Linked DNA regions of Homo sapiens: region 1 is linked to region 2. Evidence: fine-mapped expression QTL. Tissue or cell type: lung. Region 2 holds a variant in brackets; the other region holds the start of a gene. All regions are shown on one strand. Distances are between the middles of the regions. Region 1 holds the start of EFNA5 (ephrin A5). Region 2 overlaps EFNA5 (ephrin A5).

What was found.
Region 1: it holds the start of EFNA5, and the variant in region 2 is fine-mapped to the expression of EFNA5 in lung (TOPMed, PIP above 0.99).

What each region holds. Positions count from the first base shown.
Region 1 is chr5:107,665,604-107,677,383 of GRCh38, forward strand. It overlaps EFNA5 (ephrin A5), which reads right to left and starts at 5,334. Exons shown (of 5, transcript NM_001962.3): 1 at 4,886-5,334. The coding sequence starts at 5,010. RefSeq lists enhancers at 4,487-4,566, 4,967-5,096, 5,807-5,946, 7,687-8,186, 8,088-8,137 and silencers at 4,727-4,796, 5,367-5,416, 6,777-6,846, 8,218-8,297.
Region 2 is chr5:107,499,192-107,510,971 of GRCh38, forward strand. All of the region lies in intron 1 of EFNA5 (ephrin A5), which reads right to left. Among named protein-coding and RNA genes, the nearest start is that of EFNA5, 170 kb to the right of the region's middle. RefSeq lists an enhancer at 1-500. The variant A/G (reference allele first, on the strand shown) is at 7,336.

The sequences.
Region 1 (11,780 bases), 170 kb after region 2:
CCAAATTAGACTGTATAGCCAAATCTGCCTCAAATAGCTCTAATGTTCCTATCATCTAAAAATCAGACAGTTGAGTATTTCTGATAGTTTATTGTGAATATATAAAATAATGAATCAAATAGGTAGAACATATCTTAGTAGCTAACTCTGCTTTTCAAAATTCTATGGAAAACTCACCAAAAAACAGGAATCATACTTCTCTTTTACAAATTTCTAGATTAAAAAGGGGGGAGGGTCAATTCACGTCTCTTATAAACATATAAGCATAAAAACATGGGTTATAAACCTCAATCATACTGCCTTATTTTTAGCCTGGTACTTGCATAAATTCTGATCTAAATTTCAGAGTAACAAAATTACTACCAATACATCTAATAATGTGATACGTTACACTGAGGCTTAAAGTTAATGCCTTTTACTTGAAAAACATTTATGTTTCTAACATACAAAATATTACTTAAAATATTTAAAATTTCAAAAGTAAGGACAATCTAAGTTTTGTGATGAAACTCATTCAAGACCAAGATAAACTTTCAATCTTTACTCACAACAAATTCTTAGATTTAAACCATGCTGATTTCATTTACTTGTCAGTGAAAAGGTCACAGTGCCGGCATACTGGTATACATATGTCAAAATGATGATGGCTCAGATTTTTTTTAAATGGAGCAACTAAATTTTGAAAGAAGAAAAATACTCAAGGGAATATGATTAGGAAAAAAAAAATGTTACTACTTCTCTCTTCTTAGCCACATACATTTGACCTGTACTGCCAGAGGACTTGGGAGTGTTGACCTAGAATTCACATTACTTTCACAACTCCAAGATTACGTGTTAACAAAACTAAAAGGTGTCAATTACCTGCTACTCTAATATGAAATGTTTAATATACAAGTCCCTACAAGAATTGAAAAAGTCCAAAGAAAACATGATTAGGTTAAAGTTTAGTAAATCCTTCATGACTTACACAGATATTTTCCTCTTAAGAGTATAACCTTTTAAATTGATGATACTCAAACCTTAACAGAAGCAAAGCACCAGGTTGAGGACGACTGGTATTCCTAAAAGTGTGTTGGTCATATTTGCTGCTGTATTATTTGACTATTGCATCAATAATGCCAACCAGTAGGAGATATGTTTAATTACCCTAATATCATTTCAGCAAATAGTCAAAATAATCCAAGAAGAACTTAGAATACGCACATGATGTTTAAAAGTATATTCTTATTAGAAGCACCAAACTGCTTATGGCATACTTCAGATGAAGAGGCATGTTCTTAGTATTATGACTCTCTTTATAAGCATAGCTACTAAAGGAGAATGTAAATAAACTTTTATTACTGGAAGTCTTTTTAACTTTATTTAAAAGCTTTTTACATTCTTAAAGAAATTAAGGACAAATAGTTATATTCTTCTTGATGTGGATTTTCATTACTCAAAGTTACTTGGTGACATTCCAGTTTAGAATTCAGAATAATATTAAAAGGATGATTTGATTATTTACACTTTTAGGTAAAACTTATACAAGTTTTCAAATTTTGGAAATATAGAAGATCTATTTAGGCAAATGTTATCATATATTTCTATTCAAACTGATAGTTCTGAGTGGCTATTTCACAAATTTGTGCCAATTCAACACATAAAAAAATCAGTTTGGTCCCCTATCCAATAAATACTACCAACTAAAAGTTATCAGCATTTGAAAACTCAGTATCCACTTCTCAGAAGTGAATACCTGGGTACATAGATTGTAACAGTAAAACTATTCTGACAGCAAATAAATTTAATATTTTTTCCCGTGAAACTACATCTATAGATGCTCATTTATCAATGGAGAGGCAGTAATGAAACTCCATGTAGAAGATAAACTCCTACCAGATACACAAGTGACACAAGTTACACAGTAAGATACTGTACTTAATCCCTGTGATCAAGATACATTTAATTCTGATTTTACCTAAACATAATTTCAAATTGAATCTGTTAGTATAAGCTAAAGTAGATTTACTTCGTTTAGACACAGTGTACATTATCATCAGTTTAACGTGCCCACTGAACATATTATATTCTGAGGGAAAAATAAAAAAAATTATTTAAGTTGCAATTAAAGTCCTCTATTCTTTTTTCAAAAGATTGAAGTCTTACTAGTTTAGCAAAATTTTAACAGATAGGTTCTATATAAAGACACAAAGCATGGCTAGCTTACTTTATGAAATAACATACAGGAAAAGGAATTGCACAACAGTGAATTTATAAAATTTACTAAACCCGTGGAAATTTTCTGAAATATTTTCTTACTATTGTTTGTGGAAAACTGTTAGTTTTTATTTTTAAAATACTTATTTGGCATGTGGCCTCTTATATCCAAGTTGACTTTTCTTAATGCATCAAAAGAGCAACATCTTATTCAACACTTCAGAGATAAAACTGCCTACTTTTAAAATATTGTTTTTAAAGTAAGTTTTTAACTGTGATAACATACCAAGATAAATGTGTCCATAAATTCCTAAGAATAATAAGTGTTAGGGCTGTATCTCTTGGGGTTAAGAGGGGTACATCATTCTTTCTTTTGGCCATTATCAAACTGATAATGATCAAATAGAAAGGTAATTCTACAAACCTGAAGTTAGAATACCGATTTAGAAATACTCTTGGTATTTTAAAATTCTGCAGATTAACTTTGTCTGGGCAGGTTCAAAGCCTCCATGGCATCCTGAGCAGAAGAGTTTTCTGCAGGCAGGGCAGATCTATTAAAAAACATGACCTGTGACAAAAATCAATGTGCTAATCTCAAACCAAACAACAGTATCAAAAGCACAAAACAGAGATAACCTAAGATAAAATGTCCTCAAACTAACTCAGACTAGCTTGACAGGTTAAGAAGGGGGGTTAAAGTAGGGGTGTTGCTGGTTCTTTCCGTTTTAACCCAGGAAGACTGGAACACCCAAGTATCCAAATAAATGAATGCCATGAGAAAAAGATCACAATGTGGAGCTTGGTGTGGGAAAGAAAAGACAACCGAGAGCAAGATATCCCAAATTCAAAGAAACTATTTCAGTGTTGCTTTATTTAATAAGGTGCTAAAGTTCAGAGATACAAATTTCTGCTTCGTATATGCTGCCTAATAAAGCACAAACGGGGAAAAAAAACTAACCAACATAATGAGACTGGCTTTTAACACCATCACAACTGGAAAGCTTGCTCTATTTGTCTTGTCAGCTTTAATAAAAGGCATCTCTCCTCTGGCAGGATGGCTTCTTTTTCTCTTTTCCTAATAGTGGTAAGTGGCATGTCAAAGAAGAAATCGCTTCCCATTCCACCACCCACCTCCAGGAGACTCTTGTTTTTTGAACCAAACTTTCAGGAATATCTCCACTCCTGTTCAGCGGTTCATTTAGGACTTGGGCGGCTACCTGAGTAAGACTATCTTGGACTAGCGGGATAGGGGGAACTCCCTCCTGGTTCTGTAACCGGCGGACTGCTTGTGGGGAAATCTTCCCATCTTCATCTGCGCTGACATTATTCAAGCAGGGAATCCCTCTCTTGCCTGCATGCTGAGGGGAGGCTGGAGGCAGGCGGAGAGGGCCCGCAGGAGATAGAAAAAACTGGAGGCGCCCACCGATACCCTCTCTCCTGGAGCCCGGGGCGCGCACCAACTCTTAGGCTAACCCCTCGGCCTCCCGCCTCTCTCTTCCCAACTTCCACTCCAGCCCAGTGAAAAACCTGTGACTTTAGATGCAATCGGTACTATTAATAAATAGCACCTAGGAGGGCACCGAGACCGGCACACAGCTGGAAGCTAGCCTCTGTCCCAGAGAAAGCAGTGCGGTATGGGCCTAGCGGGGCCGACTTCTGTGCACAGGCCGGGAAGCAATAAAGGTTCGGAACTGCTCCAGACCCGGAGGACCCCGCCGGGCACTCTGGATAACCTCCCCACTCCACTTCCAGGGTCCGAAAACACGGGACGTCTGCGACTGGCCGGTGTCCAGCACGCGCACTAGGACCGCCCCCGGCGCCCACCTCTAGTCTCCCGCATACCCGGCGGGCTTCGGGACGCCTACAAATCGGTTCCAGGTAATCGCGCGCGTTCCTCCGGCAGCACATCGCCAGGCCGCGGGCGAAGGGCTCCCACCTCCTGGCTCGGCCAACTCTGGCAGCTTGTTCTGCACACATGACGTAACCCGGCATTAGATCAAACTTTCTGGCACCTTGAACCCACTGGGGTGGGTGGAGGGATGGAGAAGATGGGAGAATCCTCTCCACTGCCAGGCGCGCCGGGCCCAGACTGACTCAGGGGCCGAATGATTTCCTCGCAGTTGAAGAGGAAAATAAAAACCTAAAGCTTCCGCTTCCCAGCCCCCCTCACTTCCCCCAGCCCGTGCGCTCTCTCTGCGCGCACCGGGAAAAGAGAAGGGAAAATTAAAATTAAAAAAAAAAAAAAAAAAAAAAAAACTTTGGGGGATGTTTGGCGGGTTCTCTCCGCAGTCCCTGCGGACCCACGCTCCAGGAAGGAGCTCCCGGCTGCGCACACTGGGGGCTCCCCGCGCCGGGAACCGGATGCCAGCCAGATGCCGGGGCTGGGAAGCAGAGAAGTCCCTACTCCCCGGCTCCCGCCCTTTTCCGAGTCTCCCGGCGCCCCGCAGAAGCAGTTGGTCTAGGCAGCCCCGGGGACTCCCAGGGGTACCTGGCCTTTCCGCGGCGGCTTAACAAAGAGGGGCGCGACGCGAGCGCTTCCCGCCGACGCCTCAAGCCATCAGCGCCCGGGCGACGCAGGCTCCGAGGGTGCGCGCCGCCAGCGGTTGGTGCGCGCCGATCCCCGCCGCCGCTCCTTCCGCAGGGCCCCGAGGCCCGGGTAGCCCTGGCTCTCCGCCTGTTATCGGCTTACCTGGGGTTGCTGCTGTTCCAGTAGACAGCGTAGCGGTCGGCGACGGCCTTGGAGCCCGGGTCCTGGCTGAACACACACATCCAGAGCACCAGAAACACCAGCGTCAACATCTCCACGTGCAACATCACGCCTGGCCAGCGGCGGAGCCCCCGACGCGCCACTCCGGGGAGAGAGCGGGGATCCGGAGGGAGGGAGGCAGGCAAAGGGACAGAGAGAGAGCGGGCGCCAAATAAATATGAATAAATAAAAATGAAAGTGGGCGAGAAAGGAAAGAGGCGCCCACCAAGCTGGGGAGGGGTAGGAGAGCGAGAAGAAAAGAAGGCGGTGGGATGGGGGGTGATAAAGACAAACTCGCACCCCCACTGGAGGGTTCAGGAGGAAAAAGGAATCACAAGATGGAGAGAAGCGTGCGTGTGTGTGGTGGCGGCGGCGAGGGCGGGGGAAGAGGTGCCAAGCTGTGTCTCGGGCGGCGGCGGCAGGCCGGTCACCCCGGGAGAGGGAGGTGCGCGCCGGGCCGGGCGGCTGCAGCGCGGGTCGGGGCAGGCGGCGGCGCGCGCTGCACAGTCACCGGGAGTTGCGCGCCGCAGCCGCGGGGAGACATACACCGGCCCGCCGGGCCCGGCTCAGCGTCGGCGCAGCAGGCTACGCACGGCTCCGCCACCGCCCGGGGCCCTCGCACTGCGCCACGCTTCGCTCCAAGTTACTTTGGCGGCCGGTGGGAAACTGCAGGAGAAGGGCGACGTGCTGATAGAGGGCTTCGCGCTTGTGGTCCCGGGAGTCTGAGAACCCCTTTCCTCAGCCTCCTCTGTGCCTTAGCGGGGCGACCCCCAGAAATCTCAGAGGAGTCGTAAGTGCTGCGGTACCGGGCGGTGCGCCGAGAAGGGTGGGGATCCGGAGCCGCAACCCAGCCTTGTCGGTGTCCTGGAACTGGTTAAGCGGCAGCTGCGCCGGCTTTCGAAGCGGTCTTGCCTCGAAAACCTCAAAGAAAAGTTTGGCTCTTCGCGTCTTCCGGCAGGTCCCCCAGCAGAGTCGGAACGCGGCGGTAGCGGAAGAGGGCACCCCGGGGGCTGGCCGAGCCTCGGGGATTTCTCGCGCGTGCTTTCCTTGGCTGGGTGTGGGTGCACCACAGTGAATGAAGAGCAGAGGTTAAGACCAGCCGGCCTGGCAGAGCTGGGATTCCTAAACCTGCAAGACGACGCCAACCCAACTGTTCGGCTGGAGAGCGGGAGGGGAAACAATCACTTTCAAATGGATCCCTCCAACTCCTGGATGGGCCGATGTCAGTCTCCGATCGCCTTCCGAGAGGGAGACTGAGCCCCCACACGCGGTGCCAAGAGCCCGGGGTGAGCTCTCAGAAGTGTCCCTGCGACTCCAGCGGGTCCAAGCCTAGCAACTTGTAGAGATGCATCAATCAGTTTGAAATGGGAAAAGAGGAAAAAAAAAAAGCGCACGAGCGAGTGGCACCTCCCCGATGACTACATCAGAAAACCTTCCCGATCCTCCCGCAGCTGCTCCTCTTTCCCTCCTTAGGCACAGCAGCAACAGAGGTGAAAACCACAAACCGAATCCTAAAACCCCTACCCAGGCGGGAAAATAAATAAACTTGAGTGCAGCAGCAGCAGCACGAGCAGCCCAGGAGGAATTGAAACGACTGGCAAGAAGTGGAAAGGGTTTTGTAAAAGTCAGTTTTGCAAAAGAGGGGGAAAAAAAGAGAGCGAGAGAAAAAATGCTTTATGGGAAAAAAAATCTCCTCGGGCACGCCCCCTCGTTAATGACTTGCGTGGAAAGCCGACAGCGGCGGCGACCCAGTGGCAGCAGCCTCAGCAGAGCGCGAGGCCGCACGCGTGAACGTGGACGTGGGCGGGGGGATGGGGCTCCGCCCGGGCGTGTTGCGCGGGACGCGGGACGGGCGGGCGGCGCGAGCGCGGGTGTGAGCTCCGGACGAAGCAGGGGGAGGTGCCGCCAGCCCGCGCCCAGCCAGCGCTGCTGCCGCTGCGGCCCGGGTCATGTGGACTGTCTTTTTTTTTTTTTTTTTTTTTTTCCTCCTTCCAAGCAGTTTACTTGGGAAGGGTGGGAGCGCGGTGGGGGGATAGCTGGAGCAACCAGTCAGGGAACGGCCTACTGTTTGCTTACAGATTGGGGGTTTTTCCTCTCTCTTTACTCCAACCGGATTGGTTTGCTCCACGAGAAAGAGGCGTTTTCCTAATCTCCCTTCCCCACGCCTCCTACCCCCTCCCCCGCCCCACCTTCTAGAAACCTGACTAATTGAATTACTGGGAGTGCCGAGGCGCCCTCTCCTGCGCCGGAGCCCGGCAGCCACGTGTAACCCTTTGGGTGCTGAATTCCGTCTGGGCTAAGGAATGATTTGACATCTTTTTACCTGGGAGTAGGGTCTTTCGATTTTAAAGGAACCTGTGCCCACCCTTTGGCTGGAGAGCCGGCATCTGTCTCTGGTGCCCCGCAGGTGACGGATGGGCTGGAACGGAGCCTCAGGGAGTGCGCGTTCCTGTCCATTCCACCCGCTCTCCACGCCGCACGCTGCCTGGCGCTGGGTTATCTGGAAGTCTGAGCACCCCTCCTGTGCCTTTCAGCCCTCCTCTTCCCACTTGGGATTTAAAGATTCTTGGGCAGGAAGCAAGTTTTCTTTAAAGTGATGCTCTGAAAACACGTTTTTAAAAATCAGGCAAATCACAGTTTAAAGTGATTACAATTCAGCGCGAACCTTCCACAGAGAGGAAATGAATGCGGCAGACGAGCCCTTCAGAAATAACCTCACACCTCTTCCATTTCAACCTTGAGGGTGATTTGCTGCCCACTCCCCAAAGAATAAACGCCTTTATCGAACCCGGTGCGGAAAGAAATGAGGGCCGGGGGCGGGGGCTGTGGGAAGAAAAGCAGTTCCTTTATTGTTGGAAAAGGCCCCTCGGTCCTGGACTTCAAGGGCAGGTTGCAAGCCTGGTCTTCAGCCGCCACTGAAGAGCGATCTCCTGGCAGCGAGACTGTCCCAGCGCCTCGGGACGCGTCCCCACTGTCGTCCAGCGCCCAGGAAGTGAGCCCGACGCCTGCTCTGCGGGGCCACAGGCCCCCGAGACCCGCCCTTAAGGGGTCCGCGGGCTCGGGAGCAGCGGTATTTTTTCTCATGTTCCCTAGGGAGTTTTCTGCCTTAGTGGGAAGGGCAGATCCCCAGGAGAAAAAAGGCAGTTTACTTTTGCTCCCACACCTGCCTGCACTCCTTTTTACTTATTAGCCCAATAAAATCAAATCTCACGTTCACCCTCCTGCGCTTTCCAGTCCTCAGACGGGATTTCCAGGCGCTTCAGAGCTGTTTAGAAGCGTCCAGACGCCCTCCAGTGGTGGGCCTGCAATCCGCACCCAGCAGGGGCATTGCCTGCCGCTCAGGCCGGGTTGAATTTGATGGGAAATCTAGGGCTATGACCAATAAAGACTCGAGAGGAAAAGAAACAGTTCATAGGGGCACGGAGGTACCTGGATGTTATGGGCTCTTGGCTAAAAGTTAAGTCGTTTTTCAATTACAGTAATATTTCCTATCTGAAAAGATCCTGAAATCGTCCTAGGAAAGTAACTTATATTTTGTGACTAGATACAAATTGCAATCTGTACAATAATGGACTTTACCACAAACCAACCATCTGCCTAATTATTAAAAATTGAAATTCAGAATGTCGACACAAATGCTCCTCCATCATCTGTATGTTTCACAAAGTTCCAGCAGTGAGAAAGAAGTGGGGAAAGAAGTGAGAGAACCAATGGATAAGCTTTTATTTTTCAAATCAAATTTTCAGTTAAAATGTTATTTGCTTTTTTCCCTGGTCTGTAATCTTGCTGATGTTCAAGTTCTTGGCCCATTTTAGGGTGTGTGTTTTTTCTGTTGCAGGAAAGATGGATTTGTTTCCTTAGCTTTTCTTATAGTGGCTCTAATAGGTGCTCATATGACAGAGACAGTTTTGCAGGAAATATTCTGGACCCTTTTAAGAGATATGTGTATCTTTAAAAAGAAAATTCACGACTCCTGTCTAGGGTAAAATGCTGATCCTCACTGAAGAGTCTTTTTAGTCAGGGAACTATCAGGTAACAGGGAGCTAGCAAGCTGGCTTCCTGTGGCATCAAAGCTGAAAAAAAGGTGAAGAAAAAGAAATGGTATCCACTCATTTCCCGTTTGAAACACATACAATAACCAAATGGGAAAATTCAATTATATCACAAAAATATGGATGTCCTTATATTTAAATATCTCTACTATTTAAAGTTTGAATAGTCCCATATTAAACAGAAAAAAAAGTATACATTGTCCTCTTCCATAAAGTGATTCATAAGATTGGAATAAGATGTTGAAATTCGCGGCTGTTCATAACATAACTCAAATGTCTATGTGAAACAATTCATAAACCTAAATCAAATGACTCTGGGATTATGTGCCTAAGTAATTATTGGTATGGAAGTTACTAGTCAGCAGGATGATAGATACAGTAAGTCCTTAATGTCAGGGATATGTTCTTGGAAATTGTGACTTTAAGCGAAGTGGCATATATAAGGAAAACAATTTCACCATAGGCTACTTGATACAAACAAGAGTTAAATTCCTATGCATATCTCCGGTCACAAAAACATCACCAAACTTCCAGATAAAGACCAAAACACTTCTAATGTTAAACATTGAAATAAATGTGAGCTAGACATACATTTGAGAAAGATTAATAAAAACAAGTAAGATCATGTAACCAATTTTTCCATTTCAGGATTGCAGGTGGCCGGAGTTCAGGGCTCAAGGAGGAAAGTAACCCTGGACAGGACACCCTTCTATCCTGGGGTGCACTCACACTCACACCCACACTCACGCATACTGAGAATATTTAGATATGTGCACAGCTTAGACACAACCTAGCGAGCACAGCTGTGGGTTGTAGGAGGAAACCAGAGTACCCGGAGAAAACCCACGCAGACATGAGGAGAATGTGCAAACTACTCACAGACAGTGGCCATGGCCTGGAATCGATTTTTTTTCTCATCACCATTATGACGAAGTGACGTTCAACCAAACAGCGTTGAGGACCTGCTGTACTTGAACAGAGTTTGAAGAGCTATATTATTAACTGTACACTTACCGTTAGATAATGTGACTTTGTCTCTTCAGGAAAGCATTCATGTGATTTAAATTTATACAAATCAACATTATATAAAATAATTTTATTATAATTCGCCCAGTGTCACAGAAGCAATGACTTTTAAACGACTTTAAATGCCCTTTAGAATGTAAGTATTTTGCCAGGTATAGGAGGAGGTGAACGTATAACAAAAAGAGAACAGCAAGAACCTAAAAACATGGGGACAAAAAAATGCAGACAGTGTTCAAACGCTTCGAGTTTGACAAGACAATGTTGTAGGGAGCTGAGACCTGAAAAAATAGGTTGGTAATGGACGATAAAAGGGCTTATCTGCAATTCTGTTTCCATTTAAAGCTATAGGCCACTGGGTGCGCTGGTGGGTTTAAAGCAAGTGCCATTGAAGCAATAATTTATATGCCCCAAATTAAAGCACAAATAGGAATTTATGCGTTTATTTAATTTTTGGGGCTTGAACTACCTTGATCAGTGTTCTAACCTTGGCTACAAATTAGAATCACCTAGGGAGCGTTAAAAAACAAACAAACAACAACAACAACAACAAAACCAATACCAGGGCTCCACTTCCTGTTTTAGTTGGTTAGGAGGGGGACTTGGGATCTACAATTCTTAAAAGCTCTCCAGGGAATACTAGTGAGCATAGAGGATTGAGAACCACTGATCTCAATAAATAACCACTGGTAAGTTATTTTTACCTTAACTAATATTTCAGGCAAAAGTAAGTTCTGCACTTACTTATCTGGAGAAGTAGCCCAATTCACCATTAAGGCCAGAATATTGATACCTTAGAGAATTTCATGATCTCTATTAATGTGAAGTGACACTGATACTTTTAAATAATTTTTACATGGCACAAAATTATCTGTGAGTGCCAACTCCAAGATGTGGTTGCAGGGCAAAGCTTAAATATGGATTAATCTTATTTTTTAGACTAGTTTTTAATTTGAATTAGCTGCCACCCAATAGAAGTAGAGTTCTATAGTCTCAGGGTGCCTAGACAAATAAATGAAATAAGCTGGCAAATCAAATTCCTCAGTCCTAAGCAACTTTTAATATAGCAGTTAAATTAGAACTAGTATCCAGAAGAGATCATAAAGAAAATAAACTCTAGAGCAAAAATTAAATAATAATTAAACACAAAACTTTCTAACAGATGACTAACATAATGGTATTTAAGCTAACTCTGCTATTTTTCTAGAACATTTAGAATAAATTCTGAAGCTCCAAGAAGCTAAGATCCTATCACCAAACTGTGACTCAGCTGTCCTGCCCACAGAATGTTTGAAGTTACCAATAAAGCACTCTCTCTTCCCCACCTGTTTTTATAACAAGTTCCTAAGAATCTTCAGAAATAACTCTTTGCTGACTTTTCTCTCCTCAGAGACTTTAAGAAAAGCTCCTTTTCTATCCCTGATCTAGTTATCTCTTCTGTGTACAATCTTAAAAAAAAAAAAAAAAAGACTATAAAGTATTACATCTCTCCTTTCATTCCTGTGACCTTCAACTTCCATCATGGATTTTCTCCCTTTTCCTCATTCTCCCCTTCCTTTTCTGGGGTTTGCTAGAATTTATTTCCTTAAATCTACAGAGAAACAGAAGCAGTCCTGCAAGTTGCTGCAATATTCTGAAAGAGGCATTTTAAAATTTTTTTATCTATGAACTTAGTCTATTTGTTGTTTTGCCCATTTCAAAGCATATTTTAAGTAAAACCAACATAGTAAACTTCTTAAACACACAGAACTTTCAGCAGTCAT
Region 2 (11,780 bases):
TAAATCGGGAGAAAGTAAACATACCCTCAATACTTAAATCTCCCACAATGCACAACAATAAACCTGCCCTGATATGGGCACTGCCAGGGATATACTCTTCTCCCTTTCTGTCTCTGAGTAACAACAGGTTGCAACTAGTTTGAATTAAAGAGCCTGCATCTGCAGCCAACAGCTGGAATTCGGCAACTGTTGTTAATCCACCTTAATTGCTTATTATTCTATGAGTCCTTGTTTGTGCTTTTGTTATTCAAAGTAATTTTCCCTACATGCACATACTACCAAGCATGGTTTTAGCAAGCTGTGGCCAAAGAATTCCTGTGTTTCCATCCTAGGGCTGTCATTGTTTTCTTTTGAAACAAAAACATATTGACACTGGATTTTTTTAAAGGGTTAGCAAGTTAGCAGTGATGCCCACAGATGGACTAGCATTGGCCTATATGTGCACAGAGATACAGGTATTAGCCAACGTCTAAATAAGAACAAGTCTTCTTTTGGTGTTTTAATTAGAGCTGCAGTTAGCAGGGTTGCTATTTTCCCTAAACAATTCTTCCCCTCCTTGAGTTAGGGAGGGATTTTCACTCCACCACTTCATTGCACTAGTGAATAAATGAGATCCCAGGGTTCCAGGGAGAAAAAAAATTACCAATATAAATGCATCAGGTGCAAATTACCAAGGTAAATAGGCCCATGGAGACTGTAAAGCTAGCAACACCAACTGGAATATCTGAGAGGGGCCAGCAGGAGAAAGCCCATGGGTCACAGTCTCAGTTCTGCAGTGTACTGTGTGTGTTTCAACCCGGATCATTCATCCTGCAGCCTGCAGAAAGGAATCCACAGCACAAAGCAGTTGTGATTTGGCATTGACAGTGTTCTAACTAATGCTTCAGTTGTAGCTTTTCTATTCCCCTCTCTTTTTATTCACCCAAATGCCACTCTTGGATAGTGTCAAAGCAGAACCTCCATTGTGAGAGACCAATGCAATATAATATCTCCAACTATAAGTTGATCATTAGTAATTATTTGTTCCCTGGAACTATTTATAATCTGCAATAAGGAAAAACTGCCACAAACATCACTATTAACTGTGGTCTGTAGGGCACGAAGGCTGATCTTTTACGTTTTCCCTACAATGTATACGTATATCTGCTAAAGAAAGTATTTGTAGCTCTGCATTTCTTCTTTCTGTTGCTCTTTACTGCAAAGTCTTTCTTGTTCTGTAATAATTTTGCCAGGGTAAGCCTAGTCCCACTGTAAGCTTCACATAAAGCAAAGACCTGTCATATACTTGTCTCTCCCAGAGTGCAGCACTATTTACTGACCTGAGTTCAATTTTTTTCTAGAAGAGAGCAGGCAAGGCTTTCCATTAGCCTGGCTTTGTTTCCACCCAACCCTATCCTCATATGGTGTGGCTGTCTCACCTCTTACCCTCTTATACATGTAGCCTGAATGCACACTTGTTAGTCTTATTTATTACCCTATTTGTGTACTGAAGCACATGTCCCTTAAAAATTAGCCTGCTCTACCCTGACTGGAACATGAAATTCTGCAGGCATCTGAGCATATATTCAAATATAATAAAAGGGCTATATTATAACAAAGGTCTTTAAGGGATATTTGCCTGGCCCTTAAATCACCTTGACTTTGTTTCTTCAAATAGCAAGTACCTAAAAAATATTCATTAAAAAAAAACAAAACAAAAAGGTTTCCTGTGAACATTTCAGCCAGGATTGTTCATCCTGAAGCCTGCAGGAAGAAACCTGTGAACAAGTGAGTGGGAGAATTCACAGTGGAGTCAGCTCCAGCTCCTAACTCTTACTATTTATTCATACCTGGTGTCGTCTTGGTTTTATGCTTCCTGTTTTAGAGCATGCATCAGGCTAGATAAGGACATATTGTGTGCATAGTATAAACTAATATGAGGACAACTTCTACAAGCCTTCTACAGCATATAGATCAAGTGTCATTCTTAAAGCCACAGGCCCTTGTTAAAACAATTTATTTGCATGGATTAAGCCTCACTTATAGATATTGACTCAACTATATGATTTTGTAAATATTTTTTTAAAATATTCTGTTTCTTACTTAGGATATTTCTTACCTCCTGCACAACACAACATCAACTATACAATCAATAAGATACAGTCTTTAGCTACAAATTAAGCTTCTTATTTTATCTGTGTAACAATCATTATGTGGTTTAATGATGATCTGCAGTCTTAAATACATTATATACTGTTATATCAGAGATGACATAAAAGTACAGATATTATAGCTTATGAAATCAGCCCCTCCTTAATCAGTTTGGCAATAAACCAAATTGCCCTGATTTAGCAAAGAAATTCTCAGAAACTATTTTTCTCATTCAACATTTGTGATTTTAATTCTTTAAAAAATATTTCAGTGTCTTATTTTGCACAACCATTCACTATTTGTTTGAAAAACTTAAAACTGTAATATCATTTTAATACAGTCATTATAAACTAAAAGTTAAGATACATACTATCGGCTACATTTCTGTTGTGGTATTTTAAGCCTCACTTTGTTGAAGCAGCAATTATTTTCATAACCTGAATTAACGAATGCTGATTTTGTACGTGAAAAGATGGACAGAAATGTCACACTTTAATTCACGCCATTAAACAAACAAAAAACGGCCATAAGGTCAAAATAATAGAACTAGATGAAAAAAGTAGTCGATCTAGAATCCTGTGAAATTTTCTCTGATTTAAACTGTTTCTTGCCTTAAAGAAAAGTACTGCAGCTGTGATACAACTATGAGCCCTCCTCCCTTTAAAAGCTGATGTCAGTGAGAAATACCCCATCTGATGGGTTTTCAAGATGTACACCGGGCATTGCCTACGGAAGTTAGTTAATTACACCAACCTGCGGCTGTTAGCAATGAGGACTGCCCCTCTTCACCCAACGTAGGGCAGAAACCAATCCTCTCAGTTCACCGATCTAATTCCAGTTTTCAGGCACACTGGCCATCCACTGCCTCCTTCCCTTCCCTCTCCAACTCTTAGAAAACGAAATGCAGTTAATTTATGTTCATTTTATCCATTTCCTCTCATGACTCACTGCAACAGGAAACTGCCGTCTCTGTTGTGTTTAGACCAGTCTCGTCTTAGCCACGAGCTAACAGTATCATCATTTAGAAAGATCCCTCATCATGCCACAGTCAACATCAAACTGTTCCTCGACATTCTGAATTTATCTAGCACATCTTCCCTATCTGATGCAAATGAACCGGCAATCATTTTAGGAAGCAGTGCCTTAAAGAATTGTGATCCTGACACAATTGCTGTGGCGGTTTACTCATTACATTACGAAGCACAGCTGTATCTTGTTGTTTCATCTGTGGGGCTTTTGACAGCACATAACTGCTGAAAAGCATGTACATGGGGTTGATATATACACACACATACATACATACTCAGGACGTGCAAAGGAGAACGTGGCCGTGCTCGAAGTGTATCAAACTATGACTTCTAAATTCCTTTCCATCAAATGCCAGTAGAAGCACTTGATAAATGGACCCTAGGAGAGCACTTCTCATTGCCTCAGGATGGAACGACTCGCAGGCATACGACACTCCATCAATACAGAGAGCTGGCAGATTGAAAGGCGGGAAGGACTATCTCTGATACGGTGCATCTGCTTACTAATAGCAGCAGCACTCCAACCCTCTTCCCATTCATTGCCTACAGGAACCACTCCTCAGAGAGGCACGCCAGTCAACAGATGGTCTCTGGCTAAGGTGTAATCAGGAGCAGCTTGCTAAATTTACCCAAAACAAATAGAATTACAGGCTTTTGCCCGAGTCTGAAATTGAATTGAGAACTTGGGTGGTGGATAATGGAAGCTAAAATGGAAGAGCTCAAAATGCATCACAGCATGTTGGGAAAGGGCGGGCACAGGGTGCAGTTTCAGCTGTGAACTCCACTGTTTACTACCAGGTCATCTATTGCCAATAAACTTGTCTACTATGCAGGATCGTTTCCCCTCAAGATCAAAGCTTCCAGGATTGGTAAAATTGTCACCAGTTAATGAAGTCATCTGCCTTCGGTGCACAGTGAACAAAATACTACCTGATGTTTTGAATATGTTTTGCCCAGTTGCAATGCCTTCACGTAAAATGTCAACAGTTCTAACCATCCTACTTTCATTAGCAGTTTTTATGTCCACTAAAAATCTGTCATTCAAAAGGTAAGAATCATTAAGGATTCTGAATAATGTGATCTTCTAAGAAGAGGTGTTCCGATGTCTATCTCCAGAATTCCTCGCTGTTTTCAATCATTCGTTGCTCAGAATACAGGCAACATAAAGCCTCAGAAATTGCCTGAAAAAGTCAGCATAAAATTAAGAGTAAATCATTTAACCTATGGCTATGTTTCACTACTTACGTAGTAAGAACTGTGCCACCCACACAAATCACTGTATCATGAAGCTTTAAAAGTAAATGAGGCAAAATATGTAAAAGCACTTAAATTATAAAGAGATAAGGTCTTAAGGATAAGGCTATTTGTAACCCAAGCTATCAGCAGTCACTTTAAAATTATTATCTTCATAACCATTAATATTTTTTATTACTAAATTGTTTACCCATTAAAAAGGCCATTAAAAAATTAAAAATTTCAGTTTCTAATATTTTATTGTTTTCTAATCTTCTTTGGAAATAAAAAGATGTGTATTTTGTATTTTACATCATTCAGTATTTGCAATGCAGAGCTTTTAAAATGTATTACAGCATGCATTGAATTAGCTACCTTTAAACTAATAATCAGGCAATTCTCCTCATTCTTCATGACTTAAAATCCCATTATGGAAAATTCACTTTTATACATCAATCAGTCTAACATTTTCAAACATCAGTTATATAAGAAGTATCTGAAGTACCTCCTATTTTCTTCGAGCATTTTGTTGTAAGGAACTCTGCCATGCAGAGAAGGAATCCCAAAAGAAAGGTCTTTTTTGTTCAGGATGAAAGTATTTAAAGAGAGGGTATTTTTTAAATTAACTAAAAAAAGAGCTTCATTCTTAAGGTTTGAATTACAGACTGACAAGGGCTAAAATATCTTTTAACATAATTATTTTTTAAAGTAACTGACTTGAAATGAAACTAGCATTTTTCTTAAATGAATGCTGTTAAGTAAAGCAAAATGTGTCCCTACACTCGAAGAGGATACATTTTTAGTGATATGTTATATATATAAAAAAGAACTAGATGCTAAAGCTACCTTACTAAAATATGTGTCTTCTCTATTTGGAGCTTTATCTGCTATTCTCTCTTCTTTTATAGAAATAGAAAATGCATTATTAATGTACAAATAATATGCATGCTTATAGGAACAAACATTTTGAGCTGCAGAATAAACTAATGAAAAGAGCACAGACAGATACAGATATCTAATTACTACATTACCCTGGGCAAATCATTTAACTGCTCTATGATTCAGTCTGCCCATCTGTAAAATCAGTGGAACAGCTTCCCTACCTATCCCCAAGATATTTGGTAGGAGTACATGAAAAAGTGTTGTCGAAGCCTATTTAGGCACCAAGCTTAAAAGGTCTGGCACATGTTTGTGAAAGTACAATTATAATGATTTTCATTACTATTCTAGTAGACTCTGAATTTTAATCTTTAGGAATAACCCTAATTATTTTATTTTAAAATGCTTCAAAAATATAGCTATAACAGAAAAACCTGTCATATAACTAGTAGTAAAATTTTGGCCCTATAATATCATCCTATTTATTATTCAATTATTGCTTCAATAAACCAATGTATGTATAAAAGGTAGCCTTTGTTTTTCCGTATCTTTAATGCAATTTGTTCTGAAAAACTACTGTGACATTAATAATAAAGGACAAGCTCTGTAAAGAAAAGGTGCCTAACAAAAACTTGGCAATGATCTCCATTCAAAGCAAAAATGCTATGAATTTTAAGATAAGGGACCTGTTATATGTTAAGTAAAAATATTCGTAGTTTATAATTTGTGAAGCAGTAGGCATTGCATAACTCTGAGAAAAAATGCTGTTCATTATATGAATGGCAATTTCAAATAATATCAAATGATTTAAGTTCAAAGGACTTAGGAAAGCTTCATGGCATCCTGTTATTAATTTCACAAAAATTTCTTTAGAAAAGAAACTGAGTCCTACATGAAAAATGTAAAACTACAAGGTGCACTGTGTACTGATTCTCCATGCAACAAATCTGCAAACATTGCCTAGGGCATGCTATATGGGAAATCTGGACAGCTGGAAATCATAGTAGACAAGGAGATTTAGGTCATTGATCTCAGAATTGGAAAATTTCCCCTAGTGAGCCAATATGAATCTGGCACATATCACTGATACACACACATACACCCCTCCTATATCCTCAAAAAAGTAGCATATCACTAAGAGATATCATTAGAAAATGTATGCAGTAATAGCAAAGCGTGTGAATATATTAACTGATTGCGTAGTGAAAATCTTCAATATTCAGTAAATATTCATTGGGTACCTCCTATGTACACAACACTGTGAGAATCAGTAGTAAGAGATATAATTAACATTTGTTAAGTACTTGCTATTCTACATTCTTTACCTAACTCATTTAATCCCCCTTTCCCATCTCTCTCTCTTTTTCTCTCCCCCCCACCTTCTCTTGGAGATAAAAAACAATTATGATCATCAACATCAGCATCATCCCCATTTTCCATTTGAGAAAACTGAAGCCTAACTGAAGTAGCTTGCCCAAGGTGATAGAGCTAGTGAGCGACAGAGCCAAGATTTAAACCCTGGCAGTCTGATCCAGTCTACACATTCAACCACTATGCTATATTGCTCTAAAGCACAACCACAGGGAGCCACAAGAAACACTTCAAGCTCTTGAGCACTTACGCTTTATTTGTGTACCTCTCACTGCCTGAAATGACTCCCAGCTTAGGACTCACCAGCTCCATGAACCCTTCCCAGATTTCCCTCAGGAACAGTTGTCTACTCCCTTCTCTGGTCCATCAAGATATCTTGTACATATTCCAAATTCTGTACTTATTGGAACTATATTATAACTATTTGTCTGCATGTTTGCTCTTTTTATTCGTGAGGCTTGGCTGAGAATTCAACACATAGTAAACATCCAGTAGAGTAAATGATTAACCTGTCATTGGAACATTACAATTTAGTTGAAGAAGTAGTCTGAACTCTATTGGTGTAAGTATTTGTGTTTGATAATGGCAAATAAGAATAAAGGTTACCTTAGCAAAGGTTGCTAAATTATGGACTGGGGTGAAGATAGGGCTCAAACCTCACTCTGATAGACCTTAAAGGATAGGAATGAATCAG[A/G]TGACTGGAAAAGAGGAGAGGCAATCTGGGGCCAGATGAGCAGGAGCAGGAGCAGGGGATTTGAGAAATGAGTGCCTGAGGCAGGTGTGGAGGGTGGGCAGCCCATTTAATGGCAAGCTAAGGAGCCTCAAATTTATTCTTAGGGCACTAGAGAGTCTTGAGCATGGAAATAACATGATCAGAAGAGCAAGGCAGGAAAAACAGTTTTGGCTGCAGGAAACACAAAGGTGAATAACAAAAAATATATAATATCTAGATTTTGAGGGTGAAACCTACTCAGAATCCTTCTTTAGTAAGGAAAAAGACAGCTGAAACATTCACCACCTGCTGAAAAAGGCTTGTCTCCAAGAAGCAAACTGTTACTAATAGTTTTTAATGTAAGTAAAAATTCATTAAACATTTATTGCTGCTTTATTATCCTACGGGCTAAGAATACAGAAATAATGCATCATCTTCAGGGATAAGAATCTAAATTTTTGAAAATGAAATACAGAATATGGATTAGAGAAGTAACATAAAATGATCAAAAGTTTGTATGTGAAGGTCAGAATGAGAGAGCTATTATTCTTATATAATATGATCTGTCAAAATAAAAAAAAACTTTTGTTCAAAAATAAATGATACAATCAGAAAATGAGAAAGGACATTAGAAGTAATCTAATCCCACAGCATTTTAGAGATGAGAAGAATGGGAGGACCAGAGAAGTTAAATGATCACCTCCAGGTCACACAGAAAGTTGTCAGTAAAATATGGATTACAAATCTCATCTCCTAACTATGGTTGACTGCTTTGCCTCTGCTGTTTTTCATAAAGCTATAAATATGACTACACTAGAAAAATAATTCTGGTATATTTTGGTATAAAACAAATTATAAGTCTTTAATAACATCCATGTAAACTTTAAAAGATTAAAACAATAGAGCCAATGAAAATGGATCATTCATTCATTTAGCAGCCTATATTAATTAAGAACCTAGCCAGGGAATGCAGGAATGGATGAAGGGTTTGGATATAAATAACGGAAAATGGCAAGGCGTGGTGGCTCACACCTGTAATCCCAGCACTTTTGGAGGCCAAGGAAGGAGGACCGCTTGAGCTCAGGAGTTTGAGACCAGCCTGGGCAACACGGCAAAACCTCATCTCCTAAAGATAAAAAAAAAAATTAGCTGGGCATGGTAGCGCAGCTGTAGTTCCAGCTACTCAGGAAGCTGAGGTGGGAGAATCACTTGAACCCAGGAGGTCGTATTTTGGATATGCTGAATTAAATATAAAATTAATATCACCAGCATTTTTAATTTCTTGGTAAAAATGTAGCTATTAGAAAACTGAAAATTATATACATGGCTCACATATTTCTATTGGACAATGCCACTCTGGAGAATGAGCAAAGATTAACCAGCTGTGGGCTGGTGCATGCTTAGAAAGGCCAGGAAAGAGGACAAGGTGGGATCTAACCATTAAAGGATAAGAATCTGAAGATTTTTTTTGAAAGACTAATTTTCAGGGAATTGTGGGGAAGAAAGTCTCACAGAAAAAAATGTGGGTAGTTACCCAAAAGTTTCTCCCATCATCTTTGGAACTTTGGCCAAATCAGGTGATGCCTTGGGCAAATCAGGTCTCCTTCCTCCTGCCACTGAACTAAACTTGCAGTTTATCCTTCTGTTTGTTCTCTGTGGAACTGTGAGCCAAGTGAAGTGCAGATGGATGGCTTCTTGGAACAGAACTGAAAGCATGCCAGTACTTAAGTTAGAATAGCATCCACCTTCAGTGACCACAGTTATTATGTGAACACCGTAGGTCCTCACGTGTGAGGTCACCGTATTATAGAAGCAGCTCTCTGGATAATTATTCACACAGACACAAACACACACACAGACGAATGTCATCAGAGTTTTTTGCTGTAAAACACTATTTCCATCTGTGTCTTCTGCTGCATAGTTTAATTCCTGTATATGTCTTTTAAATAAAAATGTGGGCCTCATCTGTGTTACACCAACCTTGAAGACATGAACTGCAGACAAATTTTCATAATAACTTCAGGGCTATCAAACTGGCTAGAATTGAAATATCAAGGTCAGCCCTGCCATTTTCAAATTATCTTCAGCCTTGATATAACAATAATCTTAATTAAATAGACTTCTAAAAACTAAGTGTAAGTCAAGCTTGAACCATCACTATTTTCAGAGTATACTAAACAGCTAGTAATACAAGTATAAGCAATAAATTATTCTTGTTTTTATAATAATGAGAAAAAAGTTCTAGAAGTTAATTCCACTTAAAGGTGTTTCAATAATTAATAATTTCATTTTTCTCATGTCCAATGTCATTACAGAATTAGGTATATTCATTACTTGAAACATTTCATTTAATCATTCACTTATTTACTTATTGCAGTGTTCCTTTATTGTATTGCAGTTATTTGTCCTGACAGTTTATAGTTCCTCGATTAAATGGATATTTTAGGTATTCTGGTTTTAATTACCTAGGAGCAAACTTCAGGTTTCAAAGTTGCATTTGGACAAAGTGCTATTCCTATAAATTTATTTATAGGATGGCTTCGCTCTTGAGTTAATCAGAATTTGTGTCACTTACATAACAATGGTGACTAGCGTGACATGTTAGTAGTCTCTAATGCAATTTTGCTAAAAATTTTCTTATAACCCATTAATACATAAGAGCAGATGTCTTTAGATACCCTTTTACAGACTCTTTAAGATGACTATTTGTTCTTTTCATCTGAAAGAACCAACACAAAAGAGCAAAAGTGAGTGTCAACTCTTTTTCTTTTCCTTTTTTTTTTTTGTTTTCTGAGGTGGAGTCTCACCCTGTCGCCCAGGCTGCAGTGCAATGGTGCGATCTCAGCTCACTGCAACCTCTGCCTCCAGGATTCAAGCGATTCTCCTCCCTCAGCCTCCCGAGTAGCTGGGATTACAAGCATGTGCCACCATGCTTGGCTAATTTTTTTTTTTTTTTTTTTGTATTTTTAGTGGAGACGGAGTTTCACCATGTTGGCCAAGCTGGTCTTGAACTCCTGACCTCGTGATCCGCCCGCCTTGGCCTCCCAAAGTGCTGGGGTTACAGGCATGAGCCACCACACCCGGCCTGAGTGTCAACTCTTTTTACACCCCTTAAAAATATACTCATATACAGATGAATGGTTATAAATGATTTAAAAACGTAGATGAGGAACACTGGAATACGGCCTTCACGAGGGCAGAAATTTTTGCCTATTACATTCATTAGTATATTTCTAGAACCCAGAAGAGTCCTTGATCCTAGCAGATGCTCAATAAATATCTGTGTATTGAATGGCACATAATGGACACTCAGAACATAAATGTTTAATGACTGAATAATTCATGGAAATGATTACGCCATTAGTTAATAACAATATGCTCCATGATCATCATTTCACTGTATGCTACTGTCAAAGGCATTTGAATCACAGCAACTCCATCTTGAATAAGGGCTATGTAAAATGAGGCTGAGAGCTACTAGGCTGCTTTCCCAGGAGGGTAAGAGATTCTTAGCCACAGGATGAGATAGGAGGTCAACACAAGGTACAGGTCATAAAGACCTTGCTGATAAAACAGCATGTGGTAAAGAAGCCAACCAAAATCCACGAAAACCAAGATGGCCATGAATGTAACCTCTGGTCATCCTCGCTGCTCATTATATGCTAATTACAACACATTAGCATGCTAAAAGACACTCCCACCAGTGCCATGACAGTTACAAATGCCATGGCAATGTCAGGAAGTTACCCTACATGGTCTGAAATGGGGAGTAACCTGCAGTTCCAGGAATTGTTCACCCTTTCCCAGAAAACTCATAAATAATCCACTCTCTGTTTAGCCTATAATCAAGAAATAACTGTAAGTATCCTTAGTCTAGCACCTCAAGCTGCTGCTCTGCCTATGGAGTAGCCATTCTTTTATTCCTTTACTTTCCTTTCACTTTACTCTAGGGACTTGCACCAAACTCCTTGCGAGATCCAAGAACCCTCTCTTGGGGTCTGGATCTGGACCCCTTTCTGGTAATACTACAATATGAATACTTTAAATGGTGGTTACCAGGAAGTCTTAAATGTTTATGACAAGTAGGTGCTTAGTACGTTTTCTTGAATATATGAGTAAAGAAATAAACTAGAAAGACTGGGTCACAATTTAGAAAATAAGTCATGAGGTGCTGAAGACCAGAACAGCCCAATCTTTTTTTATAAACCTCCTGGATGCAAGTTTTAACACAGTCTCAAAAAAGTTGTGATCAGTTTCTCCAAAGCTACACACTGAGACTAGGATGACAACGAGCTACCTACTCAGGATTTTGCAAGGACCAAAAATCTTTTCTTACTTTACAATACTCTCAAACAGAAACTATTTTAAACTACATGGTTAATTCAACCTTGTGGACTGGATGGTCATCAAAATGATTATATAATTAT